6 separate regions of the Homo sapiens genome follow, and all the other regions are linked to region 6. Evidence: fine-mapped expression QTL. A gene starts in region 6. Each other region holds a variant in brackets. All regions are shown on one strand. Distances are between the middles of the regions. Region 1 overlaps SIK2 (salt inducible kinase 2). Region 2 overlaps SIK2 (salt inducible kinase 2). Region 3 overlaps ALG9 (ALG9 alpha-1,2-mannosyltransferase). Region 4 holds the start of LAYN (layilin). Region 5 overlaps ALG9 (ALG9 alpha-1,2-mannosyltransferase). Region 6 holds the start of PPP2R1B (protein phosphatase 2 scaffold subunit Abeta).

What was found. PIP is the estimated chance that this variant, and not a neighbour inherited with it, causes the effect.
Region 1: its variant is the best candidate, but not a certain one, in a credible set for the expression of PPP2R1B in thyroid (GTEx, PIP 0.89).
Region 2: its variant is the best candidate, but not a certain one, in a credible set for the expression of PPP2R1B in nucleus accumbens (GTEx, PIP 0.72).
Region 3: its variant is the best candidate, but not a certain one, in a credible set for the expression of PPP2R1B in tibial nerve (GTEx, PIP 0.82).
Region 4: its variant is the best candidate, but not a certain one, in a credible set for the expression of PPP2R1B in ovary (GTEx, PIP 0.83).
Region 5: its variant is the best candidate, but not a certain one, in a credible set for the expression of PPP2R1B in tibial nerve (GTEx, PIP 0.57).

Annotation. Positions count from the first base shown.
Region 1 is chr11:111,723,404-111,727,492 of GRCh38, reverse strand. SIK2 (salt inducible kinase 2) reads right to left here. Exons shown (of 15, transcript NM_015191.3): 15 at 1-3,997. The coding sequence ends at 3,364. It also overlaps a transcript of PPP2R1B not described here. Among named protein-coding and RNA genes, the nearest start is that of PPP2R1B, 41 kb to the left of the region's middle. RefSeq lists an enhancer at 3,651-4,089. The variant C/T (reference allele first, on the strand shown) is at 2,468.
Region 2 is chr11:111,640,199-111,644,287 of GRCh38, reverse strand. The region is part of intron 3 of SIK2 (salt inducible kinase 2); the gene reads right to left. Among named protein-coding and RNA genes, the nearest start is that of SIK2, 40 kb to the right of the region's middle. The variant C/T (reference allele first, on the strand shown) is at 2,141.
Region 3 is chr11:111,833,429-111,837,517 of GRCh38, reverse strand. ALG9 (ALG9 alpha-1,2-mannosyltransferase) reads left to right here. Exons shown (of 15, transcript NM_024740.2): 12 at 1-50; 13 at 1,224-1,353. Among named protein-coding and RNA genes, the nearest start is that of ALG9, 36 kb to the left of the region's middle. The variant C/A (reference allele first, on the strand shown) is at 2,130.
Region 4 is chr11:111,539,445-111,543,533 of GRCh38, reverse strand. LAYN (layilin) reads right to left here and starts at 2,814. Exons shown (of 7, transcript NM_178834.5): 1 at 2,606-2,814. The coding sequence starts at 2,690. RefSeq lists an enhancer at 3,032-3,711. The variant G/C (reference allele first, on the strand shown) is at 1,582.
Region 5 is chr11:111,797,045-111,801,133 of GRCh38, reverse strand. All of the region lies in intron 14 of ALG9 (ALG9 alpha-1,2-mannosyltransferase), which reads left to right. It overlaps LOC124902756 (a long non-coding RNA gene), which reads right to left. Exons shown (of 2, transcript XR_007062891.1): 2 at 1-4,089. Among named protein-coding and RNA genes, the nearest start is that of PPP2R1B, 33 kb to the right of the region's middle. RefSeq lists a silencer at 3,846-3,925. The variant A/G (reference allele first, on the strand shown) is at 1,799.
Region 6 is chr11:111,764,564-111,768,652 of GRCh38, reverse strand. PPP2R1B (protein phosphatase 2 scaffold subunit Abeta) reads left to right here and starts at 2,264. Exons shown (of 15, transcript NM_002716.5): 1 at 2,264-2,405; 2 at 3,269-3,359; 3 at 3,748-3,848. The coding sequence starts at 2,292. It also overlaps a transcript of ALG9 not described here. RefSeq lists enhancers at 2,199-2,248, 2,269-2,448, 2,335-3,238.

The sequences.
Region 1 (4,089 bases), 41 kb after region 6:
ATTACTCCAGCACCAGAGTTGGGAAGGGACACAAGAGGCAAGGGCTGGCTTCAGTCTTGGGCTCCTGTCTGTCCCAACCACTGACTCCAGCATACGGTTTAAACACTTGGGAGTTCTTGATATCTGAGGAAGAAAGGGCCACTGACTTTTTCTTTCCTAGGAGGCAAAAGTGGATGGAAGAGAGAAGGGGTTTGCTCAGATGGGCATGAACAGCCCCTGAGCCCCATCCCCACTCCCCTGGTGGGCCCTGATGCTCTCCCACGCAGGGATTCTCAAGGTGGATGGTGTAGAGAACCATCAGCCTCCTTTTCCCACGGTGACAGAAGGCAGTGCAGGCAGAGGTGGCGAGGGGGCAGCTGGGGACGGTCAGTGTCACCGGGAATGTGAAAGTGGGCCCCCTCTTCCTGTCGGGCTAACATGCTGTTTGCCTTACAGGGACCAGTGTATCAGTTGCGTGGAGATACTAGAGACACACTTGCCCAGCTGGGAATTGCAGAGCTAGTGCATTTCTCCCAAAGCACAGACTAATACCCCAGATTTAAAAAAAGAACATAAAAAATAAAGTACCACACATATTGCACTTTTTGCCGAACGAAATTTTTACCTCACGTTCATCTCACCAAAGTCTCTTCAGAGGAGCCTGGTTTACAGGGTGATGAAGCTGATGATGATACAGTAGTGTACACACTGCTAACGTGAATCAGACTGGAAAGCAAGTCAGTACTTCAGAGTAGCCCCGCAGAAAAAGAGCGATACTAAGCCTTCTTAGTGTTTTGTTTGTTAGTAGTGATGAAGAGAAAACTGCTTGGAAGCTTCCATGGGTCACTAGTTAGGGACAGAGCAGCACAGGTGATCAGACAGGGCTGAGCAAACACCTGACTGACCAACAGAACCAGTCTCCTCAGCAGCTTACATTGCAGTCAATACAGAGGGTTATGGAATTTATTGATTTCTGCTTGAAATAAACAAGATAAGCAAATAGGAGCTTACAACACAGGTCCCAGCAGGAGGGGTCACGCTCTGCATCAGGCCGGTGTCCACGCCGCTGCCGTGTGTGACGGATCCTGATAGGCCTGGCTGCTGTAGGGCACCTCTCGATTTCTCTCTGGGTCCTTAACCTTCCAGTAGCCTCTCTGCAGTCCCTCATCGGCTGGCCTAACCGTCCTGCCATAGCTCCCAGGTCTCCTGGGCTAAGCAGCTCATGGCATTGTTGGGGGGCAGGAGTTTATGTCGATCTGTAACTACACCATTCCTGCAGTTCTGAAATGAGTGGCCCCCATTTTCAATCTGCAGGCATTTTAATATCGCAAATATTGTAGCACTTCTGTAGTATATTTTGGGAAAACGTCTTCCTTCAGTCTAAACAAATCAAGCCCCATTTTATAACTGGCTATTTTGTAAAGACTCAAAACAGATTAGAGATCTTAATGAAATGATCTCTTAAATGAAATGATGTTCTTTATTTCACGAAATCATCAATCTTAAGCACGAGCAGGAATAAACAACTCCCAGAAGAAGCTTAATTCATTCTTCCTGGATTTTCACTGTGTGTTATTAAATCACAAAAATGACAGTCCCCACACTGCCCTTTCCCACTGACACCAAGTCCAACCGTGAGCACAGTGCCTCTGCGAAGCATCCTGGCACCCATGGTGAGCGCTGGCGACCAGGCAGTCTCTGGCCAGCAACAGGGACTGCTCAAGTTACCGACGTTGGTAGGAGCTGGGCTCGCATGGCCAGAATGGAACCCCCTAGACTTTCCACACGTCACCTGCCTGAACGCTAACTACAAAGAGGAAAGGCAACTTAAAGGTGTTTTCTAGATGCAGCATCAGTTAGTCCCTCTCTTTGTGCTTTAAGGAAGATGCTTTGTGCTTAACACATTCATCTGCTGATGGGACAAGCCATTCTAAAGGGCAGAAATGATCATCTTTAGAATTAACACTGACTTTGTAACACCTGGATGTTAACTGTCCAAATGGCAAATTATTCATCATTTCTAGGGATACAGTTAGCTAGCTGTAGCATCTAATTTTTACTTACTTTGATGACTGAATTGTAAGTGTTGGTTAAGTTTTATTAGTAATATAATGTTTGGCAGATGATCTGCTTAAATGGTTAACACATCTGTGGTTCTTTCTTTGAATATTGCTGTAATACTTGAACATTTCATTACAAGTCAAAACTTTAACGAAATTAAGAATGCTGATTCCCACATGGTGGAAAACAAACTCTGAAGTGACTTTGGATTTAGCATTGACATAAATGGAAACTGTTGGTTTCTACAGAAAAGAAAGAATTAAAGCATGATCTGGGGGAAAGGCACCGCACTACCACTTCACATGGGACAGAAAAGTTCATTTATCATGTCCTTAAAATCTCTAAGCCCTATATGAAACTGTCCAAATATACAAAGCTCAATAAACTACTAGCAACATATAGTGTAAGGTCAAAGTAGTTATTACAT[C/T]GGAAAAGAGACAACAGGTACCCTGGAGACCGACTGCCCGCAAGCCAGCAGTGTCCACGAGAAACTGCAGGAAGAGCCTGTCTTCCCTGGCCCAGGGCTGGTGCTCTTGATGCGTTCTTGAGTTTCTTGCCCCCTGCCTCCACGGTGGCGGGTCTCCTGTCAGTTCCACGTGTGACACCTCTGGAGTCCTGAGTATATTCTGACACTCGGCAACCCAGGGCACCTTCTGAAGGGGTGTGTCACCTGCTTCCGAATGGAGATGAAGGCGGTTTCTGGGGTCAGTACCAGCTGTTATTTAGTGGCCCCTGAAACACAGCTCATGCCCCACTGCTTTGTGATGGCCTTGGGGGACAACTTGCATCAGCAGCTAAGAACTTAGGATTCAATGACAAAGCACAGCTTTCCTTTATTTCCTGTGCATCTGATTTCCTGATGTCTTCTTGATTTGCCTTGTAGCAATATGTGGTTGCTCAGCTTCAGTGAAAAATATATTGCCTTTTCCCCCATATATATGCAATAGCACACACCCTTTCTGCTTTCACCAAGGTTGCCCTTGATAATAAACGGATGTAATCCTGCATAACACCTGGGTCTGAATGTCTTCTTAGGAACACATTTGTCAGTGCTGCCCTCGAGAGCTTGCTCCACTCGACCGAAGGGCAGGAGCCTCAGCCTACAACTATGTTCCAGCACTTGCCACAGAAAACTTTGTGGTGGGGCAGAACCAGGAGGAAGCAACATCCACCCCAGCCAGACCCTCTGATTCCAGTTGGGTGGCTCGATTTCTCCCCGTTAGGGAGAGGGCAAGAAAATAAGCTTTAAATTTAAAAGGCTGGAATAAAAATAGGAACATACACTCTTCCTTCACCTGACCCACCTCAATTCCTGTGCTGAGACTAATTCACCAGGACATACCCGTTGTGTTGTGGATCCACAGCGTCTAGCATTTCACAATCAAAGAGTCCAGGTAGCTCAGAGAGGGCTAGTGGGTCGTAGCTGGAGGGGGCCTCTTGCAGTCCTGGGCTTCTGGGACAGTCTGGCCCCGTTAGGTCGCTCTGCTGGGCTCCATCCACAGGATACTGACAGGGAGTGGGATAGTCTGGCGCAGGGGAAGCAGCGCTTGGCAGCTCACAAGTCTGATAGGAGAACTGTAAGGGGGCTGGGGCAGCTCCTGGCTGTCGTGGTGGTGGAGGGGGTGGTGGCGGTGGCGGCTGCTGCTGCTGTAGCTGCGTGGGCAGAGGAGGAGCAGCCCGGGGACCGGAAGTGGAGGGCAGGGGCTGAAGCTGCATCTCTTGGTACTGGCTGAGGAAAGGGCTGTATTGCATCTGCTCGGAGGAAGGCTCCAGGACGGGGCTCAGGGGCTGGGTCAGGCTGAACGGTGGGGCCTGCTGAGAAGGCGGTGGAGTCTCCTGGCGGGGAAGGGGCAGCTGCTGACTTGGCTGTGGGTAGGAGCTCTCTGCTATCTGCATCTGATTAAAATAGGCCTGCAGTTGAGACTGCTTCTGAAGAAAGAGTCGCTTCTGCTGGAGCCTAAATTGGTAATATCAAAGGAAAGAATTTTAAATCTTCTCAAGTGATGGCAATTTTAATGTAAATGCAATACCAGTCACTAGCTTCAGTCT
Region 2 (4,089 bases), 120 kb after region 6:
GAGATGGAGTCTCGCTCTGTCGCCAGGCTGGAGTGCAGTGGCGTGATCTCGGCTCACCACAACCTCCGCCTCCTGGGTTCAAGTGATTCTCCTGCCTCAGCCTCCCAAGTAGCTGGGACTACTGGCACAAGTCACCATGCCCGGCTAATTTTTTTTGTATTTTTAGTAGAGATGGGGTTTCACTATGTTGGCCAGGCTGTTCTCGGACTCCTGACCTCGTGATCCGCTCGCCTCAGCCTTCCAAAATGCTGGGATTACAGGTGTTAGCCACCACGCCTGGCCTCTTTTCTTTCTTTCTTTTTTTTGAGATAGGGTCCCACTCTGTCACCCCAACTGGAGTGCAGTGGCACAATCACAGCTCACTGTAGCCTCGACCTCCTGGGCTCAAGTGATCCTCCCACCTAAGCCTCATGAGTAGCTGGGGCTACAGCTGCACAGCACCATGCCTAGCTAATTCTAAAACGCCCAATGAACAGTTCTTTTTTTTTTTTTTGTCACCCAGGCTTGAGTGCAATGGTGTGATCTTGGCTCACTGCAACCTCTGCCTCCCAGGTCCAAGGGATTTTCCTGCCTCTCAGCCTCCTGAGTAGCTGGGAGTACAGGCGCGCACCACCATGCCCAGCTAATTTTTGTATTTTTAGTAGAGACGGGGTTTCACCATGTTGGCCAGGCTGGTCTTGAACTCTTAACCTCAGGTGATCTGCCAGTCTCGGCCTCCCAAAATGTTGGGATTACAGGCGTGAGCCACCGTGCCCAGCCTATACATTTGCAATGATTGCCTGTCTACTCTACATTTTCAAATATAATTAACTTTTTTTTTTTTAAGTTCTGGGATACAATGGCAGAACGTACAGGTTTGTTACATAGGTATACGTGTGCCATGGTGGTTTGCTGCATTTATCAACCCATCATCTAGGTTTTAAGCCCTGCATGCATTAGCTATTTGTCCTGATACTCTCCCTCCCCTCGCCCCCAACCTTCCAACAGGCCCTGGTGTGTGTTGTTCCCTTCCCTAAAATATAATAAATTTTTAAAGCAAAACAAATCCTACTCATCATTTAGTTACTTAATGCCTAGGATGTGCAAAAGCACTTTACTAGGGGTTGAGGATATAGTAAATGAATAAGAAATAGATCCTGCCCTCAAGAAAATCACAGTGGGTTGAAGAAAGATACATAAACCAATAATAATAGTACTTTACAATAGACAAAACCATGAGAATGAAAGAAAGGCCTCTTTTAACTAGCGGACAGATGAGAAGGTTTCACAAATAAAGTGAAATCTGAACTGAGCTATAAAAAAAACGAAGAAATTTTGCCTGGTGAAAATAAGGGTGAGGGAATTATAGAGTTGCAACAATAAGAATATATATTTGGTCTTTGTCTCCACTTCCAAACAGAGAGCTTCTAAAACCTATGGTATTCCTAAGTGACAGGAATATCTTTTGTTACTTGTAACAAGCCCCTTTCAACCACACTAGAGTTTATGCTAATGAGGTGACTAGTGGTGAGTCCCCAGACACTTCAGGATGGACACTGGTTGCTAGAGGAACCAACCATGTGACTAGCGGGTTGGTACCTTCAGTTCCACCTCTGGGAATCTAGAGAGGGGATGGGGGTTGGAGATTGAGTTAATCATCAAAGGCCAATGATGTACTCAATCATGCCTATGTAATGAGACCTCCATAAATACCCCACAGACAGGTTTTGGAGAGGTTCCAAGTTGTTGAACACACTGAGGTGCTGGGAGGGTGGCATCCCAGAGGCATGGAAGCTCTGCCCTCCCCCTATACCTTGCTCTATGTATTTCTTCCGTTTGGCTGTTTCTGAGTTGTATTCTTTATAATAAACCAGTGCATGTAAGTAAACTGTTTTCCTAGGTTCTGTGAGACGTGCTAGCAAATTATAGAACCTGAGTAGAGAGTCATGGGAATTCCCAACTTTGTAGTCAAGTGGGACGGAAGGTGTGGGTAACCTGGAAACCTGCTACTTGCAACTGGCCTCTGATGTGAGGGCAGTCTTGTGGGAATGAGCCCTTAAACCTATCACATCTGAGGCTAGCTCTGCGTAGTTAGTATCAGAATTGAAATGAATTCTAGGACACTCAGTTGGTACTGGAAAATTGGTTGGTGTGGAGGGAG[C/T]CCCTCCACCCTCCGCATTTGGTGTCAGAAGTGCTGGGAGTGAAAAACCGTTCAGAAGGGTGATGGCAAAAGTGTAGGAAAACATGGAGCATTCCAAGAACAGGGCAACCAAACTGACCTGAGGAAAGTGAAAGAAGAGATTAACATTTACTAAGTCTGGTACTGTAGTACCAGAAATTTTAGTTTACCTTATTCATACATCAACTATTTTACAAATGAGAACCTGAGACTCAGAAAAGGTAAGCGACTCTTCCAAAGTTACTTATGCACACAGTTAAATAATGGCTGAGCTGGGACAAGAATCCCAGTCTGTGATTCCAAAGCCCATTGTCTCTCATACGGTACACATAGGGAATAACAGGAAATGAAATTGGAAAAAAGAGCTAGGTCTACACTATAAAAGGTCTTAAGTGCCAAAGAAGTTGGTAGGCAAGGAGGAACTGCAGAAGATTTTTAAGAAATAAAGTGAAAATCTGTGCACAGGAAAGACTGATAAGGGAAATAAAGAGGCAAGAAACCACTTGGGATCCTAATCATGAGCTGAAAATGAATTAATGAGGGACTAAATTAGGGTTAAGGCAATGAAAATATAAAGTAAACAAAAGCAGAAAATATAAAGTAAACAAAAGCAGAAAATAAGATATTTCAAAGAAAAATCTGTAAGACTAAGCAACTAATTAGATATAAAAAAGAATGAGTCCAAGGTAATTCAGGGTCAGAAGAAGAATGAATGGTCAAACTGCTAACAGAATTTTGAATATGGGAAGAGCTTATTTAGGAGGAGAAGAAGGTAATGTGCCCAGTTTGTAATTTTCTTTTCAACAAGTCAGTAAGTAGGGACCTGGAATTTAGGGAAACGTAAAGGCTCAGGTTATGGATTTGAGGTTCATCTGCCTAGAGGCCTGAAGCCTTGGGAATACAGAGCTCAGTGAGGGAATGCATAGAACTCCTTCTCTTACAGGACAGGAAAATGAGATAGACAATGGTCTTAAAAGTAGGAAAAGAAAACAGTCACAAAAGGCAATTTCCAAGAAAAAAAGAGAATGCATGCTAAGAGTCAAGTTGCTGCAGTGAAGTTAAAGAGGGTGAGGACTAAAAAGGAGGTAAATTTCGCCATTAGTTCACTGAGGCCTTTACCAGATGCTATACTGGCACCGAGTTTGTAACTTTATGCCTACAAATACTATATTTGCAGACCATCCTGTCTAACATGGTGAAACCCCGTCTCTACTAAAAATACAAAAAATTAGCCGAGGGTGGTAGCGGGGGCCTGTAGTCCCAGCTACTCGGAAGGCTGAGGCAGAAGAATGGCGTGAACCCGGGAGGCGGAGCTTGCAGTGAGCTGAGATCGCGCCACTGCACTCAAGCCTGGGCTACAAAGTGAGACTCCATCTCAAAAAAAAAAAAAAAAAAAAAAAAAAAAAATTGCCTGTTTCTTCTGACTTTCTAAAGAACTTTTCTCATAGTTTCCCGTAGCACTTATAGCATAGTATAGCATAGTTCTAAGTGTTTTTAATTCTCCCTTAGATAGTACCCTCCTCCTCAAATACCAAGACAGGAAACCCAGTCATTATTTCTTGAATGAAGGGCCAAATAAATGGTTCATAATGGGATAAAGAAACAAAGAGAAAATGTTATACTATTTAATGTTTAACATTTAAACATTAAATGTTATTTTATGTTTACATTTTAAGAACAAAGCTGGATATTTACATTTTAAGAACCCCCAATATTTAATGAAAAGCAAATCTATCTTAAAATGATTGTGCATAGGCAGGGCAAAAGAGATTATTCTGCCTGTTTCAAGATAGCAGACTGGGAACCAGCTAGTTTTCTCTCCTACATCAATTCCTGGAAATGAAAGAAAATTAATTAACAGTCACACAAGAACAAAAGGAACTGATGGACTAGCAACTGGGAATATTTTGTGATTTACAACAGACTAGATC
Region 3 (4,089 bases), 69 kb before region 6:
GTGGGAAAAGAGTGGTATCGATTTCCCAGCAGCTTCCTTCTTCCTGACAAGTAAGTTGTCCTTTAATTCCTAGGGTTTTAAATGAAGGAGTAAATAGAGCAGTTCTATATCAGTGTCTTCTAATTTTTGTTTTCTTTTGGAGTTTTCACAGAGAGTTATTGAATTATCTACCACGTCGGAGAGCTGTGGGGCCTGTGTACTGTGTACCTGCCTCCTGTGTTCATTAGGCTTATTAGGCTGAGGGCTGGGTCTAGGTAGACATTCTGCACTGCCCATAACTGCAGGTGTCTGGGGACTTCTGAAAATGCCCTGGGTCCTAGGCTTTTGCCAGTGGCTCTTCGTGGGGATTCATATTTACATTTCTATAATGATCTGATGTTAATCCTCTTCTAAAAGTGGTCTAGAAACTCCAGCTAGAAGAGAGAAGACATTCTTGACCCAACAGTAGTGAAAGTTCTCCACCATTATGTGGACACTGGGGAAGGCTGTGGTTAAAATGTCTATACCAGTTTCCTTTATGCTTTCTGTGGTTCTGAGAGCATAGGCCCTAAAGTTCTTTGTAGTTTGCTTCATTTGGCCAGAGAAGAGTCCTGTGTAGGTTAAAGGGAAATCTGGTTAAGATGAGTCATGTTGCTCCATTTGAGAAATGGCTTCAGTAGCTTGGCTTTACTGGGTAGTAGTTTCTTATGCTTCATAAAGACCCTGTGTCAGTCATTAATGATTAAATTAAAACTTGTTTTTTAAGTGTTGACTTTAGCCTTTGCCTTTTACGTTTGAAATAGTTTTATAGATAAAGATATGTTTGAGGGTTACTCCGGAACAAAGTATTTCTCCCATAGTGTGTTCTCAGTGCCATATATTACATTTCATTCTTTTTCTCTACACCTGATAATTTGCTTTATTTGATAAGTCTCTCTGCCCACATAGTAATTGACAATAAGCATTGGCACTTCTCTGGTTTTTTGATGATATGACCATTTGGTTGTGAATTTCACTGCTAACAGTTGGTGAAATGGGTCAAGAGACATCTAATTATAAATTTCTCAATGATTTTGGACTGACTTGTGACCTCTGCCTCTGTGCTCCCTGGTTGAGGTTTTAGCAGAAATATTTTTTCTTCAAGAGAAATGTTTTTCACATGATTTTCCTGGCTTGTTTGTTTCAAGTACATTTAGCAATATTATCCCCCTGTGTTTTTCTTATTCTCCTTGTGTTTCTGACAGTTGGCAGCTTCAGTTCATTCCATCAGAGTTCAGAGGTCAGTTACCAAAACCTTTTGCAGAAGGACCTCTGGCCACCCGGATTGTTCCTACTGACATGAATGACCAGAATCTAGAAGAGCCATCCAGATATGTAAGGGCTACATTCTCTTCTTGCTTCTCTGAAAAGAATTCTATGCCTAAAAGTCTGTTGGTGTGTATATTAGAGCATTGATAAAATGAGAATTTCTTAGAAAGCAATTTTTTTAAGGCCGGGTGCTGTGGCTCACACCTGTAATCCCAGCACTTTGGGAGACGGGCGGGATAATTGCTTGAATTCAGAAGTTCGAGACCAGCCTGGGCAACATAGCAAGATCACATTTCTACAAAAAATTAAAAAATAAGCCAGGTGTGGTGGCTTATGCCTGTAATCCCAGCCTTTCAGAAGGCTGAGGCAGGAGGATCACTTGAGCCTCGGAGTTCAAGGCTGCAGTAGGCCATGATTCCGCTACTGCACTCCAGCCTGGGCAACAGAGTGAGACCCTGTCTCAGAAAAAAACCGGATATTTTTTAGGATGAGGGGTATAACAGCTTTTGTTGAAAAACAGTAAACAGTATCACTTTTATTTTCAAATTAACCTCTTTATTTTCTATGTAAAATGTATAATTTAATTTTGAAGGTTTTGGGTAGGCTGAAAGTTTTCTTACGGTAGAAGTTTGAACCATTATTCTGAAACTCATATCATTCCTTGGCCTATTAAAATCCTTAATGAGGAACTTTCAAGTTATCAGGTGGACCTTTGACCTAGCTATTAGTATATTCCGGTTTTAACAAATGAACAGTAAAGACTGTTTCCATACTGAATGCCAGGGAGCAGCCTCTGTCAGGGCCATGATCTTCTCCCTACTTGTCTTTACACATTCTGAGAT[C/A]CCATGCGAATTTTACTTCAGTTCCTTTGAAAGATGACACTTTTGACATTTGATACCTGTGAAATCTTTGATAATGAAAAAGGTAAGAAGTAATAAAGATAATGCTCCTTTTGGGTCACAAAGACAGTGTAAGATCGTTGTCTAGAATTATTAGAAAGCACATTTTTTGATAACCTGATAACCTGTCCGTTAAAGAAATATGTAACAGTTTAAATGTCAGCTATATTTAATTTACATTTTCTTATGTCATATGCTTAAAATGTAAAATAGCAAGACTTCCAATTCTCTTCTGAAGCAAACCTGCAGCCACATCTGGTCTTTTGTCTCCCAGATTGGGGCTGGTTAGAGTTCCATGGAGACCCTCAGGGTTTATGAGTGAGATTCTTATTGTATGAGCTGTAACTATAAGCTATGAAAATGGACACTTAAAGACACAGCCTTGAGCTGTTCCCTTGTAAGACAGGCGTTTCTGCCACATGGATTGTATTAGAGCTTTATTCTTTTAATTTAAGGCTCTGATTCCTGTTACAATGGAAATACCCTTGGGCAGGGTAGACTGTTACAGGTCATTTTAATTTTATCTGCAGATATGAGTCTCCTGAGTGCAGGGCATCATTCTAGAGAAGCTGGACAGTCAAAGGGTGGGAAAATACACTGTCATAGGGGGACAGTATGAATTCAGAGTGATGTTATCGGAGCTTTGCTTTAGGAAGAGGTAGTAAAAATGGAGTAGTAAAAAAAAGAGCGTGGACTTTGGAGTTGAGTAGGCCTGCATTCAAACCTCAGCTCTGTTGCTAAACTTGATAACCTTGGGCAAATTAGTTAGCTTCTCTGTTTAATTTCAGTTTCTGTCTGTAAAATGGCACCTACTTTGGAATTATGATATTTGATATTATATCTCTCTGTAGCAAAAATGCAATGTTCTTATGCTTGCACAAGTGTTCTTAATCTGATAATGGTATATTAGACAGATTCCAGGTAAAGAAACCCAATCTCTCCCCTTCCTTCTTTTTATTGTTTCCCATCCTTGTAATTTTATTCCAGTGTCTCCAGACTCATCATTGCGTTTTCCACCCCAGTGACTTCGCTTATATTGGTGACTATGCCTGAACTACCCTTGTGTCTCTTCTCACACTATCAAAATTATCTTCCTCTTTGAAGTGAACTATTTAAGTCCATATTGAGCAGACCTTCCTTTAAGTGTCTTCAGTATTTATCTGTGCAGTTCATTTAGCCATTTAATTTTCTTGGTCTTAGTTAAATATTTCTGATATCATATCTTTCCACATCAAATATGTGAATGCCATGAAGAGAATGACTGCACTTTGTTTCTTTTGTGTTCACCATAGTGTCTAGGACGGTGTCATGTACCCAGTAGTTCACTTTTACATGCTTTCTCAGTGGATAATGAATATTCATCGTCATTGTGGTAATGATGTTGAGAGAAAGCTGGCTAGAAAATCTACAGTGGCCTTTTGCACATTTCTTAGGCTTTTATCACTGGTTGTCTTAGTTAGATCATATTTCCATATTCTCTGCTGTCAGACAGTGTTAAATTTGATTAAATGACTCTATATGAGCTTTACCCGAAAGGTGATGATTTTTCAGGATGCCAGTAGGAGTCACCAAAATGCTGGCTGATAAAAGCAGGGAAAAACAAGTGATTTATGTCTGCTGGGTAGCAGCTGTGTCCAGCCCTTTGAATGCGAGGATTTTTTTGCTTATCTGTGGTGGCAGAATCATGAAAATTAGGCATGGACCTTTAGCTCTGGGTGGCAGGTTTTAGCCAGCCTTTGGCTTCAATGCTAAGTGCTCCAGCCTGTCCCGTTTCTATTGTGCATGGAAACGAGGAAAGTTGTATGACTTTTTTTATTTCACTATTTTCTTTACCTCTGGGCTAATCAAGAATTAGGAGTGAATAAGTGTAAAGGTTCTGTGGTTTGTACTGTACCATTATAAC
Region 4 (4,089 bases), 230 kb after region 6:
TTCTTTAAGGTAAGAGAGGCTTCCTGAAGTCAGGCATGGGCTCCTCTATTCTGGAACCCTCTGCCTGTGCAGCAGGACTGAGAATTTGCCCAGTCTCTGGTGTAAGCAGAAGCTAAAAGCATCAGATCCACGGGGTTTTCTGCTACTGACAGTCAGCCCTCTGACCTAAAGACAACAGTTAAGGTTTACTGAACTCCTACTATGTGCCATAAACTATGGTAAGGGCTTAACATTTACTTACATACTTTATCTCATGTAACCCTCATAATAGTCCCCTGATGCAGATACTGTTTATGGCTTATTTTACAAATGAGAAAACTGGAGCTCAGGGAAGTTAAGTAATTTGGCCAAGATCACACAGTGATCATCAGCATCACCGGAGTTAGAGCCCAGATCTAATTACAAAATCATGCTGGTACCAGTGAACTAAATTGCTAGCTCCCCGCTGCACCCCAGGCTCATGTTTTACTGGGAGCCTATGTAATGTGTCTTATCAGTCTGTCCCCTGAAGGGCTGAAGATCATCTCAGACAAACAGATGGGATTTTACTGAGGAGCCAATAACAAATCGCTCACAGTACACACTGCTCTAGCTTGCGTCTGTGTGACTGAAGCCTTGCTGCAATGGAGACACTAGCCTCATCACTCCTTTCATTCAATCAACATTTATTGAGTGTACACTTTGTGCCTGGCACTGTGCGAGGTGCTGGGAATACAGGAACAAAAGCTACTTCCTAACCCACAGGAGCACACAGCATATGTTTCCGGATTCAAATGTTCAAAGTGAAAACCACGTATCAACACGGGGAGTAGTCCCCCTGCAAAGAGAAAGCCAAATTGTGGGCTGTGGGTGCGAACTGCTGCCACAGTGCCGGGGGTAAAATATTTTGGTTTGGGAACCTCCTCCCAGAACTTCTGGAATGTTCTTGTTTTCCCAACTTGTTTTACAGCTGCGCAGGGAGCCAGATAGCATTCATTAATTCCCAACACTGGCCAGCATATAGGGCAAGGGGCCACAGACAGATAGAACTATATGATTAGTGCTAAATGAGAAAGAGCACATACAGATTATCCAGAAAGCTCCAGTGAGTCTTCATTTTCTATTTCTTCTCTCATCACTTTCATAAAGGAATTCTCAATGAGCAACAAGTTATAAGAGTTCCACATCTTCTCCCTTTTCCTGTCATTATTTGGCTATTGCTGATAATAGAGAAACTCTAATTAGACTGGTCCAGCAGCACATTAGGAGGGTTCAAAAGCCAGACCTGCTTGCAAGAAGGTATTCAGAGAGGCTGAGGCAGGGATACCCCCGGGAAGGGGGCTGGGCCAGCCACGCTTTTGCGATTCCTCAAAGCTGGCTCCAAATTGGGCAGCAGAGGAGGGGCAAATGAGCCCCCAGGAACTTATCCAACCTGGCCACCGGCATAACATAAGCTGGAGTTGAATTTCCTGACAACCCCCACTTTCCATGTTGGATTGTCAAGGGAAACATAACACCTTAAGCGAGTTTCCTGTATGGTCCAGCCTGGCCACACATCCGAAGTCTGCGGGTGAGTGCCAGAGACCGTCAGAGCTGGAAGGA[G/C]GCCCGCGGGCCTATCTGGTTCTCCTGCCTTCAGGAAGTGTCCTTCTCTTCTCATTTGCAGGAAGGCGAAGGGTGGGAGGGCCTTCTGTTCCCCGCGACCAAGGACAGAGCCCACGCAGCCCTAACCCAAGCAGCTCAATTCAGCTTCCCACCTCTTTTGCCGCCCCGCCCCCATCCTGAAACCAACTTTACATTCTTTAAATTAGTTTCGCAAGCCAGGATGCCAGAGTAGAGGAGGTTCCCAGTCTCCTCTGTCCCGTTTGGTCAAGCTGTTGGCACCCGCAAAAAGGATCTGAGAAAAGGGCACGGATGTTCTCCCCCCGACATGCAGAACAACTGAAAGAAGCCAGAAGCCAGAGCACTTTACCTCCTCTGAGGTCCAAATCCGAGGCTGCAGTGACACAACAGGAGGAAGGAAGCAGAGAGTCATTCCCCGGAGTCAGGTGGGGCTCGTCCCACACTAACTGGAGTTCTTTCCCGATCTCTAAGCGCTCTCATACCGGGCGCTCGACCCAGCCATCCAACCCCGCAGAAGAGACGAGGAGTAACAGGCAGGGTTCCCACGGCACCGGGGATCCAGCATCCCTACCCCGCTGTCTCTGCGGCCGCCTCCCGGAGCGGGCGGTAGGCGGGGGCCAGCTGGCAAGCCTGCCCCGCGGGGGTGGTCCCAAGGACTGATTCGATGCGTGTAAAGGAGCGGGCCGAAGGGGCACCCACTGGGGCAGGTTTGCCCACTGCCCCACCTCTCCTACATTCTCCAACCCACCCCCATAACTCTGGACTGGGAACGGGCTTCGAGCGTTCCAGGACGCGCAGGGAACTGCGCAGCTCCGGGAACTGGCGTGGGTCTCAGACGCCGTGCGACTGCCCCCAGAACGCAAGAGACTCCGAAGGGCTGCGTCTGGGAGTGGGGCATGGGACGGCCTTCTAGTCCCATACGTGGCGACCCAGAAGAGGGTCAGCAGCAGCTGGGGTGCAGTGAGCCCACCCCGGCACCAGCCCCCGCCCCAGCGCGCGCACTCACCACTCAGCAGGCGACCCGTCGCGGCCCGCAGCCCCACCAGCAGCACGGCCAGCAGCACGGCCTGTAGCGCGGTTCCCGGCCTCATGGCCCGACTCGGGTGCGCCCCCCGACACTCGGGCGCTACGGCGGTGGAGCGGGCTGGCGGGCAGAGGCGTGCGCGACAACTGCAACCGCGGCAGCAGCATCTCTAGGCCACCGACGGACCGCACGGGAGGCGGGGGGGAGGGCGCGGAGTCAGTCGGTCGCCCCTCCGCCCCCTGGGACGTCACTGCGAGGAGGGCAGCCCCGCTGGCTGGCCCGCCCCCGACAGCCTCCTCCAGCGAGGTTGGCGCCAGACACTCGGCCAGCCAGAGAGGGGCGAGTCGCAGAGGGGAACCAGCTCCCTGTCCCCCTCCGAGCTTCCCTGGGAGATCCCGCGTTTGCCCGAGGCGCTGGGCGGAGGAATACTTCAGTCGGGCCCCTAGGCAATCTGATAACGAGCACAGTGTGCCTAAAACTAGCACCACATCTCACCCCTCCTCTCCCGCTGACCTTAGCCAAGTTCGCCAGCTGTGCGGGTGCACCTGGAGAGAGAGGCGATGCGTGGACTCCTACCTGGGGCTCAGCAGGCCGCAGTCCCAGCACGAAGGGCGACGCCTGAGCAGGGAATGGTCGATGCAGAGAACAAACACTCACGCAGGCAGTGTGCCCACCGGCCAGGAAAGTTATGGGACACCGCGCGGATGGCATCCAAAGAACTTGGCTGAGTTGGAGCCCTCCCGACTGAAAGGAAAGCGGCTTCTACCAGAAGCCAAAAGATGTCCCAGATCCCTGGAAGGAAATGATTCTGTTTTTTGCAGGGAACAGGTTGGGAGGTGGGGGTCATAGTTAGGGAGTTCAGCTTTGGCCCCTCGCCCCGCAGGAAAGAATGAAACTATTATCTCAGGAAAAGCTTTCCTAACCTAGCCCTCAATGTGTGCTTCCTCTTGTAAACTCCCAAAGTAGGTGTGTTTCACTTTGGTTTCGTAAACAAAATGCTTTTAAATATAGTCAAGCAATAGAGTGAGCCATCTGTCCAAAGATTAAGGCACTAAGTAGCAGAAGGTGAATCTGACTTTCTGCCTTTTCTGCCACACCATGCTGCTGTGAAGCATAGCAGAAGCCCCATCTGGGCCACGACCTCTGGATTTTGGTTCCAGCTTGCTGCTTCTTACGTACTCTTTCTGCTTTTCAAAACAGCCAAGAAAGCAGTGATGCTTCTAAGGCCTCTAGCCACTGCAATTCTAAACAAACAGCCTGAATACAGGCTGGGGGTGAGAGGGGAGTGGGATGAATTTCAGTATCAGCTGAGACTATGGGGGAGCTCTGCTGCGGCACGTAACAGCTAACAGCGGTTGTGGCAGGATGAGGCCTGACCTTTATGGCAAGATCATTTATAGACCTTCCTTCTGTCCCAGTTAGAATACGTCAATGTCACATCTAACACACTTTCTTCTTAGAAATTC
Region 5 (4,089 bases), 32 kb before region 6:
AATTTATATATTAATGAGAAATAATGGTCCATTCATATATAATGGTCATTTACGTCTTAGACCCTAGATAAGATGGGGCTGCACACCTCACTATTCTCTAGCTCTTTCTGAGAAAAGAAAAAGGTTTTAATAGGCCTATGACACATAGCCACATGATTTGTTTAGAAATGTAAGTAGGTTAATTTCTCAAATGTTTAAGTTCCTAAAATCTAACCCTGCTTTTTTTATGGTTTTTCTCAGATCATTTGTTCTTTCTTCCATTGTCTGTCTGTCCACCCATCACTCATCTCCAGTTAGCAAATATTTATTGAACATTGCCAGGCACTATGATAAATCATAGGTAGACAGGGATAAATAACAGTACATACCAGGTCGCTGTCCTCTTGGACCTTACGATACAATGGTGAGGCTGACCTTAAACAAATAGCCACACAAATCAATAGGTAATTACAAAATGTGTTATGTGTTGTAAGAGGAAAGTACAGGGTGTTGCAAGAGGAGTGAGCAGTGGGGAGACACCTGGAGTTTTCCTGGTATGTTCTTAAGTCAGCTGGTTAGGCAGGTTTGGAGATCAGAAAGTATTTACTGAATATCTGGTATGCCCTTGTTATAGAGTTAGATTCTTTTTTATTTTATTTTATTTTTTATTTTTTGAGACGGAGTCTCGCTCTGTCACCCAGGCTGGAGTGCAGTGGCATGACCTTGGCTCACTGCAACCTCTGCCTCCTGGGTTCAAGTGATTCTCCTGCCTCAGCCTCCCGAGTAGCTGGGACTACAGGCGCGTGCCACCATGCCTGGCTGATTTTTTGTATTTTTTAGTAGAGACAGGGTTTTACCATGTTAGCCAGGATGGTCTCAATCTCCTGACCTCATGATCCGCCTGCCTCAGCCTCCCAAAGTGCTGGGATTACAGGTGTGAGCCACCACACCCGGCCTAGAGTTAGATTCTTTAAGGCACATAAAGGAAGTGATTAGACACAGGCTTTTCCCTTGAATAACTTACAACTTTTGCAGGAAGACCTACACATATGAAAACAACTTGAAAATAGTGTTAAGACCATAGAGGCACCAAATCATGTGCTAGAACTTTAAAGAAAGGAGGGACCTGTGGAGATTAGAGTACACTTAGAAGGCTTCCAGAAGGAGGGGGTGCTTGAGCTGAAGAAAAGTAGGATTAAATAAGTACTGGTGGTAAGGAGGGAAGAACCACTTATTTAATTCAAGAAGCAATCATGAGTAAAAGTGGAAAGATATAAAATGCCTGTTGGATGAGGGGCCCATTAGTCAGCATCAAAAAGTTCTATTTACCTCTTTGGCTGGTTTGAATTTGCTTTTATGTAAGGTAATCTATAATGTATCATCCACATCAGAAGTCTTTTGAAAGTAAAAGGGGTCCTGTCCTGGATAAATTGAAATATATGGTCATCTTGCTTTAATGTGACCCGAGCAAAGAGACTTGTTCCAAAAAGCAGGATGGGAGAAAGAAGATACATAGATATATTTTCTTTGTTCCATAGTCCATTTACTATGTGGATTTGCCCATGGTTTACTTATTTGATTTAACTTGCTGACAATTCTTATTATTGTGGCCTAGATTGGGCCTCAGCTGTCTGAAAGAGAAGCAATCAGGGTAGTTTGAAGGCAGTACCAGCATGTTTGTTTGTTTGTTTAAAAAAAAAAAAAAAAAGGAATCAGCCGGGCACGGTGGCTCATGCCTGTAATCCCAGGACTTTGGGAGGCCAAGGCGAGCGGATCATAGGTGAAGAGATTGAGACCATCCTGGCCATAGTGAAACCCC[A/G]TCTCTACTAAAAATACAAAAATTAGCTGGGCGTGGTGGTGCATGCCTGTAGTCCCAGCTACTCGGGAGGCTGAAGCAGGAGAATCACTTGAACCCGGGAGGTGGAGGTTGCAGTGAGCCGAGATCGCACCACTGCATTCCAGCCTGGTGACAGAGCGAGACTGTCTCAATACAAAAAAAAATTATACTGTGAGTTATATGTAATTGGAGTTTCCACTTCAGGGAGTTGCAACCTAAAGATGATTGGGACAATTTTGTGATTGGGGCAAATTTAGGAATTCCACATGTCTGTGAATGTATGAAGAAGCCTGTTGAAATTGTTGCAAGATAAGCAACATCCTTATTGTTGGAGTGATGGAGAAGTACTTACTAAATAAGGCTAAGTGGTGTTAGACCATTTGGGAGAATGACAGCCCAGATGTTCGTTCACTTCTTTTCCTAATTGGCTGCTTCTTTGCCTTATTAGAGGCCTACAAACCCCAGACCCCATTAGTTTGAGAGAAGATCCAGGCATAAGATCTTAATCAACACGTTCTAGTCCCTGCTCACACAACTAGTACCAGAACTGCAACTTCCATTCCCTGAGTTTGCCATGTCTCTCTGGCTAATTTTATAAAGGTTTATCAAACTCTTAGGATGCGGAGTCTAAACTATTTGACAATATCACTTTTTAGACCAGACACATTTGTTACTCTGTGGCCATCTCATATTACATACTTTCTAAAATAAAAGATTTTTTTTTCTTTGAAGCATGATATAATTGTTACATGAATGAAATAGCTGACAAGTGGGCAGATGTAATGCCTACTCTGAGAGTCCCCAGAGAGGAGTGAAGGGAGAGTGTTGCAATAAATCACCAGCTCAGTGGTGGGTGCCTATCTAAGTGTGCTGAGAGATGTTTGGTTGTGGGAGTCTGGTGGGAAATGCCTCTCCAGGATATTGGAGTTGGCTTCATGAGCAACAGGGCCTGTTTGTAGCTTCGGAAACAAGTTGGGAGGCCCTGTCAGTGCTTTGCACAGCCACTTTCCACCCACTGTCCTCCTTCATTATATGTCCCTTTTGTCTTGCTTGCTCTGCTTTCACCTTTAGTTTGGGGATTGTGAGATTTTATTTTTCTCTATTTTTTTCTTTTTAAGACAGGGTCTCGCTCTGTTGCCCAGGCTAGAGTGCAGTGACACAATCTCTGTTCACTGCAACCTCCACCTCCTGGACTCAAGCCATCCTCCCATCTCAGTCTCCCAAGTAGGTGGGACTGCAGGCACGGACTACCACACCTAACTGATTTTTGTGTTTTTTGTAGAGACAGGGTTTCACCATGTTGGCCAGGCAATTATAGATGAAGAGTAAATACAAATAAGGAGTTAGATGTTGAACCTTTAGCTGGTATGGCAGGAGAGGGGCCTTTTCTAGTCAAAGGGCAAGTTGGGGACTGTGCTGATATCATATACGCTTATTATGTTCTTTCAGTGCCTACGTAGGATTCTCAGTGGCCACTGAACTTTAGCTGTTCTGGGGACTTTACTAAGACCATGGCTCTCCTTTTACCCTCTAAGAGGTGAACCCAGCAGCTCTGAGGCCTACAGAGTCCATTGCACTTATATTCATTTTTGTCCTATGTTGTAGAGAGTAATCTGGTTGAAGGGAGCCAGCCCTTAGCTCCAGCATAAGCAGAACTATTTCTCTATGGAAGATAAGACGACTGGAGTGATTACTGTAAAGGGCAAATTAGCCAGAAGCATTTGTTCCAGCTATTGCTGTGTAACAGTCATCCATACTTAGTGGCGTAAAACAACAATAGTTGATTATTGTTTCTTCTCGTGGTTCTGGGAGTTGATGGGCTCAACTGGCCAGTTCTTACTCAGGATCTGTAATGCATTAGCCATCAGATAGTGGCTGGGGCTGGAGGCAGCTGAGTGGCTTTCTCACTCATATGTCTGGATGCTGGCTCTTGGCTAGATCTCAGCTGGGGCTGTCAGCCAGAACACCTATGTGTCTTCTTTATGTGGCTTGGGCTTCCTTATAGCATGGTGGCTGACTTCCAAGAGTAAGCATCTCAAGACCTGCATAATTTTTTATGACCTAGCCTTGGAAGTCACACAGTATCACTTCCTCCTCATTCTGTTTGTTGGCAGCAAGCCAGTTGAATAGCTCATGCTCAAGGGGAAAAGAAGTAGACTTCCCCTGTTGATGGGAGGAGTGTCAAAGAAGTATGGACATGCTTTAAAGCCACTACTTATCTTGCAATGCCGTTCTCCATCCAAATTGGATAAACTTTGAAACTTTTCTTTTTA
Region 6 (4,089 bases):
ACAATAATTTTTTAAAATCCTGAAAACTCTCAGTTAAGTCATTATTATTATTATTTTAGAGATGGGGGTCTTGCTGTGTTGTCTAGGATGGTCATGAACCCCTAGGCTCAAGTGATCCTCCCACCTCAGCCTCCCAAGTAACTGGGAAGACAGGCACGCGTTACCATGTTTAGCTAAATTGTTTTTATTATGCTGTGGTTATTTAAATTTACGAATATAAAGTAGGAAAAATGTGCTTTTATTTCTAGTTCTTACACAGCTAAAAAAAAACCACAACAAATTTACAAATTAAATACAAATGAAACCACAAAATGAATACTATTCAATTAAAAATATTATAGTAATTTAACGTGACAAATGATGTATTTTGCTAAAACTGTCATCCGTCGTATTGTTACTATGGTGTTGCCTGCTATAGCTCAGCTTCTTTTGTGTTCAACATGCCTATGCCACCAAGTGACTCCTGATATCTTAATTTTCTCACCATTTTTCTGTTACAACTACCAAATAGTGCAATCTCATGATGCATTTGGCTTTCATTTTGTGCATGAAAGTATCATTGTCATTTTAAAACCACCTCTGTTCTTTTCTCATTATCCCAGAACAATAAAAGCAGCACTAAAACACACATGTAAATGTGGGTGCTGAAATTGTGTGGCAATACTTGGTTGTAAGGTGGTCACCCAAATAATTCAGAATATGCTTATACAAATCTAAAAAATATGAAAATGAAAATAAAATTAAAACCCTAGAGAATACATTCGCAGACATAATTTGAGAAAAACTGTTCAGGTCTGCTGGTTCCCAAACTTTCATTACTATCAAAGGCTCTAGCTATTGTGCTTACTTCCAAGAACCCCATTTATTTATTTATTTATTTATTTATTTATTTATTTATTTATTCATTATTTCATTCATTCATTCAAAGGCTCTATTGTGCTTACTTCCAAGAACGCTATTTATTTATTTATTTATTTTAGAGACGGGGTCTCACTCTGCCGCCCAGATTGGAGTACAGTGGTGCGATCCTGGCTCACTGCAACCTCTGCCTCCCGGGCTCAAGCGATTCTCATGTCAGCCTCCCGAGTAGCTGGGACTACAGGCTCCCGTCACCAGCCCAGCTAATTTTTGTATTTTTTAGTGGAGACAGGGTTTCACCAAGTTGGCCAGGCTGGTCTCGAACTCCTGGCCTCAAGTGATCCGCCCGCCTCGGCCTCAGAATCCCATGTTTTAAAAAAGTTTGTCTCCTACACTGCATTTATAGTTTTATTAATCAGGCACATAGAATTACCATTTCGGAGCTTGTGATCACCATATGTAGTTATCACTCCAAGCTGCTTAAATTCCAGTCTAAAACAAACAAAACATTCTAATTATTCTGTGCTACCCTGACAGGGGTAAGTGAAAACTTTCCATTCAGGTTTGTAAGAACGAGCTCCCAGACCTCCACCTCTTCCCCTTGCTGCCTCTGAGGACTCTTGGAGGTCTAGGGAGGCCAGTTTGGGTTTTCTTGCTCAAGAAAGTAGCCACCCCACCCAATTTGGAAGGATTAAAGCTTGTCCTAGTTTTGCTTCATTGTTGTACTTCTAGCATGCTAAAGAGCTAAAAAATGGGAGGAAGAAAATACAACAGAAGGCACCATTCCAGTACCAAACTGAAAAGAAACACAAAAACAAGAGAGCAGCATGTTTTTAACAGCTTGCGTGGAAAAAATATTGACTGGGGAGTTTGGACAGCACTGTTCATTTTCTCTCACCGCCCGCGTTATTTGTCTTACGGAGCAGGAGCCAGATACCATTCTGGAGAAAGAGCCGCGGGAAGAGGTGGAGGGGTTCTGTGGAAGTTTGAGTCTGAGCGGAGAAATTAGGGCTGGAGATCCAGTGGCTCAGGGCCAGGAAGAAGTCAGGGGAGGTGCTAAAGCCTTTTTCCTCCTGGCCTCGGGCACTCTCTTTGGTCCGCCTGAGTCTTAAGAGGGCACAGCGCAGATCATTCAGGTAGGTTCCTGGCTCCTTCAGACTACAACGAGCTGGATGAATCCCTGTCCCTGTTTCTTTCGGCTGGGGAAAGGACGCAGGGGTTCCATTCGCTTTCTTAGCCCACCCGTCTTCTTGAGTTCAGACCTACAACTCCTGCAGTGGGGGTCAGAAGGGAGCCTTAATCATCGGGACAGAAACGCGGCTCCCCAACTTCGGCTAAACCAGCGTGGCGGCCTTCGTCCCTACTGCCTGGGCGCGGGGCGGGGCCTGGGCGCGGGGCGGGAGGCGGTGACCAGCAGCAGGAGGAGAAAGAACATGGCGGGCGCATCAGAGCTCGGGACCGGCCCAGGAGCAGCGGGTGGAGATGGAGATGATTCGCTATACCCGATCGCGGTTTTAATCGACGAGCTCCGCAATGAAGACGTGCAGGTACTGGACTGAGGCCGGGGACCCGAGGCGAGACCGGCTGGTCGCGTGGTAGAGAAGGGGGAAGGCCTGCGTCGCGGTGGGGGTGGCCGAGGTACTGAATGAGTCGGACTCGTAGCAGAAACTTGAAGGGGAGGCGGGGAATGCTCCGCGAGGGGCTGTGGTGACACGCCCCGACCCTCCCGGGTACCTCTCTAGTAACCTTGCTTCGGACCCCCTGAGGCGTCCGCCCGGAGCCTTGCCCTTCCCGGGCGGTTGTCGGGGAACCCGCTTCCCGCCTGGGCGCCCCATCCGGGCCGTGAGGTGGCCGCGTCTCTTGGGCGAGGGAGCAGGAGAAGCGCGGTGCCAGGCCGAGACGGGGCTGGAGCGGCTGAGGGGCGCAGGATGCCCAGAAGCCCTTTGAAGTGCCCCTGGATCCCTTCATCTCGGCTTGGAACTGGCTCGGCTTGTTGGGTAGAAAGCGGGGGTGGGATGGCCGATTAATCTGGACGAGTAGTGTATCCGCTCTGTGGGAACTTTTCTTTGAAACCACAGGTGTTGTATTCAACCGTTTCACCTGCTTCACCACTGCCAAAGTGCTCTCTTTTTAAAATTATCTTACTTCCTAGGTGTTGTATTGTCTTTCCTTCATTTCTCTTCCGGTCCCTTCTGAGTGTTTCTCCTGGGAAATCCTCCGCCGGCTAGTGAGGCCGAGTTACACTTCTTTTTGGAAGTCCTTATGAGCTTCCTTAACAGTAAAATCTAAATGAAAGGTTATCTTCATTCTTACCCCTGTGTCATAATTTCACCTGTTAGCACCTTTTGTCTTTTGATCTAAATTCAGCCGTTTCTTTACATTGTTCTTCTTTCTACTTTCTTTTCTGAAGCTCCGACTCAACAGTATTAAGAAGTTATCAACAATTGCCCTAGCACTTGGAGTAGAAAGGACCCGAAGTGAATTGTTGCCATTTCTTACAGGTATGTGAATCTTTGTTTAAAGAAAGGTAGGGACATTCCATTTTCCAGTAGCTTTCAACACTGACTTTTTTAGAGTTTATTACCCACATTAAAATGAGCCAGGTGTTTTTTGTGCAAAAGAAACAGAACAGAGTATATTGTTAGTTGTGGCTAGATATATTCAAACATCAACCATTTAGCTATTGAAAGTAATTGATACGGGAGTATGAATTTCTAATTCGTTGTGCAAAGCAGATACAGGAAGACGGTTGAGAAGAAAGAAAATGCTGTTAGGATTTTGACTGGGTCACCTTCCTGGTCGCATAGTGAATCTGTTCCTAGTTTTGTGTCAGTGTCCAGCTGTGGGAGAGCTATCCATGTTGATGAGTCCTGTTGTTGTCACTTCCAGATACAATTTATGATGAAGATGAGGTACTATTAGCTCTTGCTGAGCAGCTGGGAAATTTCACTGGCCTAGTGGGAGGTCCTGACTTTGCCCACTGTCTGCTGGTGAGTATTTATAAGCTGCCTACCCTCCTTCTACAACTTTTGCAGTATAAATGATACATTGTTTGGTGATAGACACACTGCAGCATTTTTTATGCAGATCTTTTTATGGGCAGATAGTCATAATGTTAGTCATTGAGAGAATAAGTACTGTAGGCACTTTGCACTCAACTCCTTTTTTTTTTTTCTGTAAATAAGAGAACTTCGTCCTCCTTTTCTGCGTCTGTAGACTTATTAGTTTAGA